2 separate regions of the Homo sapiens genome follow, and region 1 is linked to region 2. Evidence: fine-mapped expression QTL. A gene starts in region 2. The other region holds a variant in brackets. All regions are shown on one strand. Distances are from middle to middle. Region 1 overlaps NOL4L (nucleolar protein 4 like). Region 2 holds the start of NOL4L (nucleolar protein 4 like).

The links. PIP is the estimated chance that this variant, and not a neighbour inherited with it, causes the effect.
Region 1: its variant is the best candidate, but not a certain one, in a credible set for the expression of NOL4L in whole blood (TOPMed, PIP 0.64).

The regions. Positions count from the first base shown.
Region 1 is chr20:32,459,030-32,463,408 of GRCh38, reverse strand. All of the region lies in intron 5 of NOL4L (nucleolar protein 4 like), which reads left to right. Among named protein-coding and RNA genes, the nearest start is that of NOL4L-AS1, 100 kb to the left of the region's middle. RefSeq lists an enhancer at 4,076-4,379. The variant A/G (reference allele first, on the strand shown) is at 1,826.
Region 2 is chr20:32,583,611-32,587,989 of GRCh38, reverse strand. It overlaps NOL4L (nucleolar protein 4 like), which reads left to right and starts at 2,657. Exons shown (of 11, transcript NM_001256798.2): 1 at 2,657-3,420. The coding sequence starts at 3,100. NOL4L-DT (NOL4L divergent transcript) reads right to left here and starts at 511. Exons shown (of 3, transcript NR_034152.1): 1 at 434-511. RefSeq lists an enhancer at 2,005-2,084 and silencers at 2,275-2,464, 2,685-2,734, 2,795-2,954, 3,095-3,144, 3,485-3,684 and 3 more.

The sequences.
Region 1 (4,379 bases), 120 kb after region 2:
CGCAGCCATGGGCTGGGGGCAGGCCCACCCTGCTTTCATCACACTGGGCCCCAGCAGGTTGGCCTCAAGGGTGACCCTCCTGGAGGGGCCTCATGGAAGCAGCAAGATGGGGACCAGGTGGGGACAAGAGGTCACCTGGGCACCCTTAGGTTCCACTTCCAGCTCCAGGTGTGGAGGGTCCATCCAGAACTCCCAGCTTCCCACTGAGCCTCCCAGCTGGAGGCCTGCACCCCGTGAGGCCTGTGTGCTGGGGCTTCGGTGCCCATGGAGCCAGCTGGGTTTCTTCACAGAGTCATAAAGTGCCAGAGCCCAGGAGGGCGTCAGCGGCAACTCCCAGGACTGTAGATAAGAGGAGGCCCAGGAGGTGGCAGTGCCCAAGGTCGCCCAGACTGCAGGACCCTACACCAGCACCATCCCTGCCCGGGCCCCACTGCATTCCATCACAGCAAGGGTTTGTGCGCCTGTCGATGTCTCTTTTAAATCAGTTTTTTTTTTTTTTTTTTTTAAGACAGAGTCTCGCTTTGTCGCCAGGCTGAAGTCCAATGGCGCGATCTTGTCTCACTGCAACCTCCACCTCCCGGGTTCAAGCGATTCTCCTGCCTCAGCCTCCTGAGTAGCTGGGACTACAGGCGTGCACCACCACGCCCAGCTAATTTTTGTATGTTTAGTAGTGATGGGGTTTCACCATGTTGGCCAGGATGATCTCGATCTCTTGACCTCATGATCTGCCTGCCTCTACCTCCCAAAGTGCTGGGATTACAGGCGTGAGCCACTGCGCCTGGCCTAAATCCATTTTTTTTTTAAGGGTTGTGGGAGGAAGAATTCCAATCGGATCAAAACCCAACTGCCCCCAGTCTCTCTTTTCCTTCTTTCCCCAAACAGTGACAGGCGCGTTCTCCTGGCCAGGTGCAGTGAGGGGTGGGTGTGAGGGTTGCAGCCAGCCCCTTCTGTGGGCATGAGCCCTCCTGTGGGCACCACCCCCTCCTGTGGGTACCAGCCTCCTCAGGACTGAGCTGGGCGTCATGGTGAGGTCCCCATGCAGAGCGATCCCAGCCCCCGGGTCCCATCCCTTGGCCTCTGCCAGGGAGAAGACCCTGGACTACTCAGAGACCAAGCCATTGGTGTGAGCCTGCCTCTAGCCGGCCTAACCAATAAGGAAATTATTAGCTCCCTCACCAAAACCTCTAGGGCCTTCCTAGGTGGCAGGCACAGATGGATTTCAGGGGATCATCTGTGCCCCCTATCAGCCCTGCTTTCCCCAGCGTGGGCCTCCCTGCACCACGGGCCCAGCAACCCCAGGTAGAGAGCACCTTCCCAGCCATCGCAGCAGGAGTCCCCGCGTGATGTCCTCGGGCCCAGCTTGGTCACACGCTATTACCAGTTGCTGTGATGGGTTGACTGGCCAGGCCTGGGGCATGCACTCACCCCGGCGAGCCCAGGAAGACTCAGTTGCCCCCACCAGAGGGAGGGGTGTGATCTAGGGGGCAGCAGGAGCCATCCAGGCCCACCCAATACAGCTGCACCAACTCTGGGTCTCTAGGGCTGGGGCCGCTTCTGTGAAGGCTGGGCACAGGCCAGAGACACAATAAACACAGTAGTATTGCAAGGAGAGGATAAGTGCTTGGAAGAAATAGGTAATTTCTTCCAAGCACTTATCCTCTCCTTGCAATACTACTGTGTTAGAGGGGGCTGGGCGCAGTGGCTCACACCTATAATCCCAGCACTTTGGGAGGCTGAGGTGGGTGGATCACGAGGTCAGGAGATCGAGACCATCCTGGCTAACACGGTGAAACCCCATGTCTACTAAAAACATAAAAAATTAGCC[A/G]GGCGTGGTGGTGGGCGCCTGTAGTCCCAGCTACTCGGGAAGCCGAGGCAGGAGAATGGCATGAACCCGGGAGGCGGAGCTTGCAGTGAGCCGAGATCACGCCACCGTACTCCATCCTGAGCAACAGAGCAAGACTCCGTCTCAAAAAAAAAAAAAAAAAAAGAAAAGAAAGGTAGAGGGGTCAGTGTGCCAGAGCAGGGTGGGAGCTGGGCTTACCGAGAAGGTGACCTTTACGCAGAGCCCTGGAAGTGAGGGACTGCGCCAAGGGGACACCCGGGACAGAGTGGAGCAGGAAGAGGGAACAGCAAGTACCAAGGCTGGGTCACAGCTGGGGCGGGTGGGTGAGCCATAGGGGCTCGCTGGAAGGGCCTGGTGGGCCCAAAGGAGGGACCTGGCTTCCAGTTGGAGTAAACTCAGCCCTTGCGGCTGCAGCCGGCATCAAATCCACTGCTTGTGGGGCCGAGGGACAGGCTGGACCAACCCCACCCCGAGCAGCACCTCTGCCCCTGTTGGTTCATGAGGCTTCAGCCCTCGCCCCACCGTCCCTGGGATGGCTTCTGCAGAGCCGTGGCCCACAGCCGGTGCCACGATGGAGATCGGGGCAGGTAGGGAGGGCTTCCCTGAGGTGGTGGTGCTCGGGTTAGCACAGAAGGGCGAGCAGGAGTCGCCGAGAGTAGGGGAGACACCATGGCTCAGGGGCCAGAAAGCTGGTGACACCCCTTCAGAGCCCCGTCTCCTCTGGAGCCCTCAGGTTTGATTTGTCGCTGCTGGAGCATGAGCTCCGAGGGTGGCAGTTGCCCCCATCCCCACAGTGGCCCTCTCACTGGGCCCACCTCAGACTGTCACAGGCTGGGCTCCGGGATCCCCAGAAGCCCCCGTTGCAGTCTGGGAGCCTCGTGCGTCGGCAGTGGGTGAGTTATGATGTGAGAAAATGTGGGGTGCAGGGAATTGGGGTTTCCTTTTGAGCTCCTGCCCCATCTCGGGCACCATCCTCACCTTAGAACCGTGTTTTACGGCTGTGGGACCCACTCTGAAAGGAAACGGAGGCTCCAGAAGGTGGAGTAGCCTCTTCCAGCCACTCCGCGGCTCAAACCTGTGGCCTCCCCAGTCGGCAAAACATGGGCCTCAGGTTGCAGGCAGCCCCCAGAGCATGTGGCGCGGGGGCAGCTGTGTGGGGTGGGGGCTGGCATGCCGGGGCTGCCTGAGCGGAGCTGGGGGTAGGCGAGACCTTGGTGTCACTGGGGAAGGCAGGCTTTCGCGATCCATGTTGTCCCTCTGAGTAGGCTCTGTGTGTGCGGCATGAGAAAATGAGATAATGGCAGATAGAGCCTATAAACTAGGGCAAAGGGGCTGTTTTTGGTCTGGGTTCTGTGTGTGTGGTAAAATGTGTGACATAAAATTTGCCATTTTTAAGTGTACACTCCAGAAGCACTGTTATTTCCACAGCTTGTTCATCCCCCAACAGAAACTCTGCACCCTTTAAGTACTAACTGCCCATTCCCAGCCCGTGGAGCCTCACTGTACCTTCTGTCTCTGTGAATTTGCCTGTTCCAGATGCTGCGTAGAAGTGGAATCACTGAGTATCCTTGTCCGTCTGGCCTGTTTCCCACAGCCTCGTGTTTTTATCATCCACATTGCAGCGCTTATCCAAACTTCATTCATTTTCATGGCTGGATACTATTCCATCGTATGAATAGACCACATTTGTGTACCCATTTACTTGTCGAAGTTTTTAAAAATATAAATAATGGGTTGGGCGCAGTGGCTCACGTCTGTCATCCCAGCACTTTGAGAGGCCAAAGTGGGAGGATGGTTTGAGCCTTGGGAGTTTGAGACCAGCCTGGGCAATATAGCGAGACCTGTTCTCTACAAAAAAAGAAAACTTTAAAAATTAGCCGAGGCTGGGCACGGTGGCCCATGCCTGTAATCCCAGCACTTTGGGAGGCTGAGGCGGGCGGATCGCCTGAGGTCATGAATTCGAGACCAGCCTGGCCAACATAGTGAAACCGTGTCTCCACTAAAAATACACAAAATTAGCTGAATATGGTGGCGGGCGCCTGTAATCCCAGCAACTTGGGAGGCTGAGGCAGGAGAATCGCTTGAACCTGGGAGGTGGAGGTTGCAGTAAGCCAAGATCGCCCCATTGCACTCCAGCCTGGGCAGGAAGAGTGAAACTCCATCTCAAAAAAAAAAAAAAAAAAAATTAGCCAAGCGTCGTGGTGTGCGCTGCTGGGGAGATCGCTTCAGCCCAGGAGGCAGCAGTTGCAGTGAGCCCTAATGGCACCGCTGTACTCTAGCCTGGGCAACAGAGCAAGACCCTAAAAAAAAAAAAAAAAAGTAAACCATGTAACTGAGTCGCCAATATTTTAAAATCTGTTTACATAATGGTGCAGATTTCCAGTTTCTTCTAACAGCTTGGAACACTTGGCCATACGAGGTCCTAGCACCTGGTGCCTTACGGGTCTTACCCGCCCAACCACTTCCCTGGCCAGACCAGGGTGGCATCTGAGTGCAGTTAGGGGAGGTTCTGCCCCGGCACTAGTGCCTGTCGATC
Region 2 (4,379 bases):
AATCTCCTTCCACCTTGGGGCTTTTGCCCTTGCTCTTCCCTCATCCTGGAATGCAGGAACAGCATGCCTTGGCACCTGTCATTTAAGTCACTGCTCAGATGCTACCTCCTTAGAGGGGCCTTCCCTGATCCCCCTAAGAAAAGCAGCCCCTTCTTTGCATTATTTGCTATCACAGCTCTCTCTTTCCTTCGTGGCCCATTCCCCGGGCTGTTGTGATCAATAGCTGGTTTGTTCAATAGCCATCTTCCATACCCATTGGTGCACTCCCGTAGGGCAGGGACCTTGGGGATCCCATGACCATATCCCAAGCCCCTGCTGCACAATGGCTGCTAAACAAATGTTTGTTGAATGAATGAAGCACAAAAAGTGCCAACAATGCCTGTCTTCCTCCTTGAATACTTCGAGGCCCCATGAGGGAGAAAATGGCACTTACTGGGCACCCGTCACAGCTCAGGCACTCTCATCCTGTTGAATCTCTACATCTGTGACATCCTGTCCCGCTATACAGATGATGAAGTAGGGGCTCAGTGACCTGCCTGAGGTTACCCAGCAAAGGGTGGAATGATGGCTTCATTCCATTGTGAAGTAGCCAAGTGGGACCTGTGAGCATGAAGAATGCCACGCCAAATAATCATCAGGATTCACTTCCAAATCTGACTCCACCCGAAGCCCATGTTCTTTTCATTATACTATACATTCTGCTGTGCCAGAACTCAGCCCAAGATTGACAACCAGGTTTTTAGCTTCTGAAAGGCAGGCAAAGACCCAGCCTGGGTGGAGAGGTGGTCCGGCTTAGTGGTTATTGAAGTGGGTCCTGGAACTGGACAGAGAGACCAGGGCTCACACAAGGACCCCACCACCCAGGCACAGGGCATATTTGCCACAGTTATCATTACCATTGCCAGGCTAGAGCATCTCTGCTCTCAGGAAGAGTGTGCTGGAAGGATAACCGTCAAGGGACACATGGAAAAAGTCAGGGTCTGAGCTTCTTAATCACAGAAGCCCCTGCGCCCCTGGGGCTGGCCTTTGGGTAGTGCCTTCCCCGCTCTGAGTGGTCACCTCTTAAAAACGGGCATGCATACCAGCATAGATCCAAAAAGAGCTCTTGAGAAGATAAAGAGGAAAAATGACTGTGGAGTTGTTGGTGTATATAAAGTAACATGAAATGTAAATTATCTAAAAATAATCTCCCATGTGAAATGCAGAGAGAGGTTGGGGCTTGGGAGACCTCTAGGGTTCTTTCAGCATTTACTGGCACCTACTGTGTGCCAGGTGTTGTGCTAGGGCCTGTGCATATGAGGATGGGTCAGATATGGCCCTGAGCATCTGGAGCTCCCTGTCTACTGGGGGAAGTGAGCCAGGTATACACAGCGTGGGGCTCTCTCCGAGCGCGGTGAAAGGGGAAGAGTTTGTGTGTGATATGGCAGCAGCAGCCAGATGCACATGAGCTGAAACCCACCCCTCCTTCCTGCATGACCTTGAGCAGGTCAGGCCACCTCTCCAAGCCCCAGGTCTTCGTCTGTAAAATGGAGCCATTCCCTCTGCCTCTCAGAGTTGCCAGGACATGGCACGTAGTAGGTCCTGGGGTGGGGGACTTTGGGATGGGAGTAGACAGTAGTTCCTACGCAGGAAACGGTCCTGCACTAGACAAAGTCTGGGCCTCAGGACTTGGATGGTGACTTGCCTGCAGGAGTGTCATGGGGACATGGGGTGGACCCCCGGGGACAGCTGGGAGAGAAGTGCAGCAATTCCTCATGACCTGTTAAGGAAGTGGGGGGTAGGGGCACAGAAATCCTGGGGAATTGGCCTGTGCCTTTATTTATGTTGGTAATTTCATTAAGGGGGAGGGGACCAGCTAGCTCTACCCAAGGTCAGATCTGCCCAGGTAGGAGGGGGGCGGTGGGGCTACCTGAGTTTACTCAGCAAGAGATTCTAGGTCAAGGCGCACTCAGGAAGGCAGGGTGTCTCAGGATGAGTTTGTGGATGTGTTGAGAGTTTTCTGAAGCGGAGGTGGGATTGGGCTGAGGCCACAGGCGACTTCCCAGGGGGCCTGGGCCTGTCCCAGAGCAGTGGGGCAGGCAAGCAGAGGCAAAGCTGGCCAAACTTCGGGGAATTCAGGGTGAGGCAAAAGGAGAGGAAGTTTGGGGGCCCCGAAGGGCGGCGATGTGGGGTTCCCCCAGGGGAACACTGCTCTTCTGGCTTCGGCTCACGGGAGAGGTCAAGTCACTTGCGGGAGCGAGGGAGGGGGAGCCTGCCCTACACCTTCCCGGCCTGGCTAAGTGGGGCGGGGCGGCCGGGAGGTCGGCGTCTGGGCTGGGGTCTGCGCCCTACTCCCCGCGGGACCGCCGCGTCCGGGAGGAGCGGGGCCTGCGAAGCTCCGGGCCCGGCCCGGCCAGACGGAACGCGGTTCCTGGGCTGGGCACTGCGCGCCTGTGGTTCCTGCCCTCCCGGCGGCTGCGGGCGCGGCTGCCCCCGCGCCCCCAGGGGCCGGGCCGGGCGGGGGCTGGGCCCGGCGGGCGGGCGCAGGAGGAAGGGGGGGGCGGGCGGCGGCGAAGGCTGCGCCGCTCTAACAGGTGGGATCCCGCGGCGTGGTGGAGGCGGGCGCGGGAGGAGGAGGAGGAGGAGGAGGAAGAGCCGCGGCAGCGGGAGCCTGAGCAAGAGCAGGATGAGCCGCGCAAGCTGACAGCCACTGCTGCCGCCCGCGCCCAGGCTCGGTCTCGCTCCCAGCGCTCGGGGCCGCTCCCCGCCTCCCGCCTCCCCCGGCCGCCCGCGGGGCGGCCCGCCCCCTCTGCACCTCCGGGCCCGGAGCTGCCTCCATCGCTCCTGCATCCCGGCCGGGGGGAGGAGGAGGCGGAGCAGGAGGCGAGCCGGAGCCGCCGCCGCCAACGCCGCCGCCGCCGCCCGAGCAGGACAGAGCGCGCCGCAGCCCCGCGCGTCCGGCCGCCGCCCGCGCCCATCCAGCAGCCTCGCCGGAGCCACACCGCGGGACAGACGCGGCCGCGGCGCGTCCCGGCCCGGTCCAGCCCAGCCCAGCCCAGTCCCGGCACCGGGCGGCCCGGCGGCCGGCCCGCCCCCGAGGGCGCCGGGCGCGGCGGGAGGATGCCGAAGCCGACGCTGCTGCTGCGCGGGGGCTGGGAGCGCGAGCGCAGCCCCGGGGACTCGGAGCTGGGCCGCCAGTTCCGGGACTGGTGCTTGCGCACCTACGGCGACTCGGCCAAAACCAAGACGGTGACACGCAGCAAATACCAGCGGATCGCCGAGGTCCTGCAGGGCGGCGGCGGGACTGGCGCGGGCAGCGGCCCCGCAGCCGGCGAGAAAGGCAAGTTCCAGTTCTGGGTGCGCTCCAAGGGCTTCCGCCTGGGCAGCGGCCGGGAACCCAAGATGGGCCAAGTGGTGTATGTGCCGGTCAAGACGGGCTCGGTGAGTGCGCGCGCGGCGGCCGCGGGCGGGTCCCGCCGCGGGGCTTGGGGCAGGCGGGCGGGGGCGGGGTGGGGGTGTGGATGTGTGTCCGAACGTGTGTCCCTGAGGTTGTCCGTGTGTCGGGCCCGCCGGAGGCGCACGCGTCCCTGCTCACCGGCCCTTCCCGGCTCGCCTGGGCAGCGCTCCGGGTTCGGGGCGTCCCTGCCCCCCTCCGCGCCGCTGCCCGGGCCGTGGCCGTGCCGGGCAGGCTGTCCCGGGCTGCTCACCCCAGCATGTTCCGTCCTCTTGTCCCCTCCCCCCGCCAGCAGGCGGCTGCTCTGGAGCCCGAGCCTCCCCCCGCCCGCCCCGGGGCTGCCTGTCCCGGGCGCCTCGCGCTCCCGCCCCCGGGCCGGCTGGGCGGTGTGTGTGTGTGTGTGTGTGTGTGTGTGTGTGTGTGCGCGCGCGGAGGGTGGTGCCGCGGGGTGGGGGGGGGGGAGGGAGGCAGGGGCAGCCGCGGGACGGGGAGTCCGCCGGGCCTCCCAGCGCCAGGGGAGGGGGCCCGCCCGGGCACTGTCGCCCCGACCCCACCCGGGGCTGGCCCGGGGAGGGGCGGCCGGAGCCGCAGCCTGGCGCAGGAGCAGCCTCCCGCGGGTGGGTGGGGCGCCCCCTCAGCCCCCCGGGCCCCTCGTTCCCCCTTCATGGGACGGGGGAGGCCTGACCTATCCATCCCCTCCCCTCCCCCGTCCCCCGGGCCGGCCCGGTCCGGGCGGGGTGGCGTGGGGGAGGGGGCGGGGAACCGCAGCCGCCTAAAGGGAGGAGGCGGGCGGCCGGGCGGGGGCGTCCCCTCTGGCCCGGGGCGCCCTGGAGAGGGCGTGCGGCGCGGGCCCCGCGGCTCCCCCGCCGGGACCTCATTGTTCTGCAGAGGGTGGGGGCTGGGGGGGGGGCGGCCGCTCCCGGGGCGCTGCTGAGCTTTGAACTTT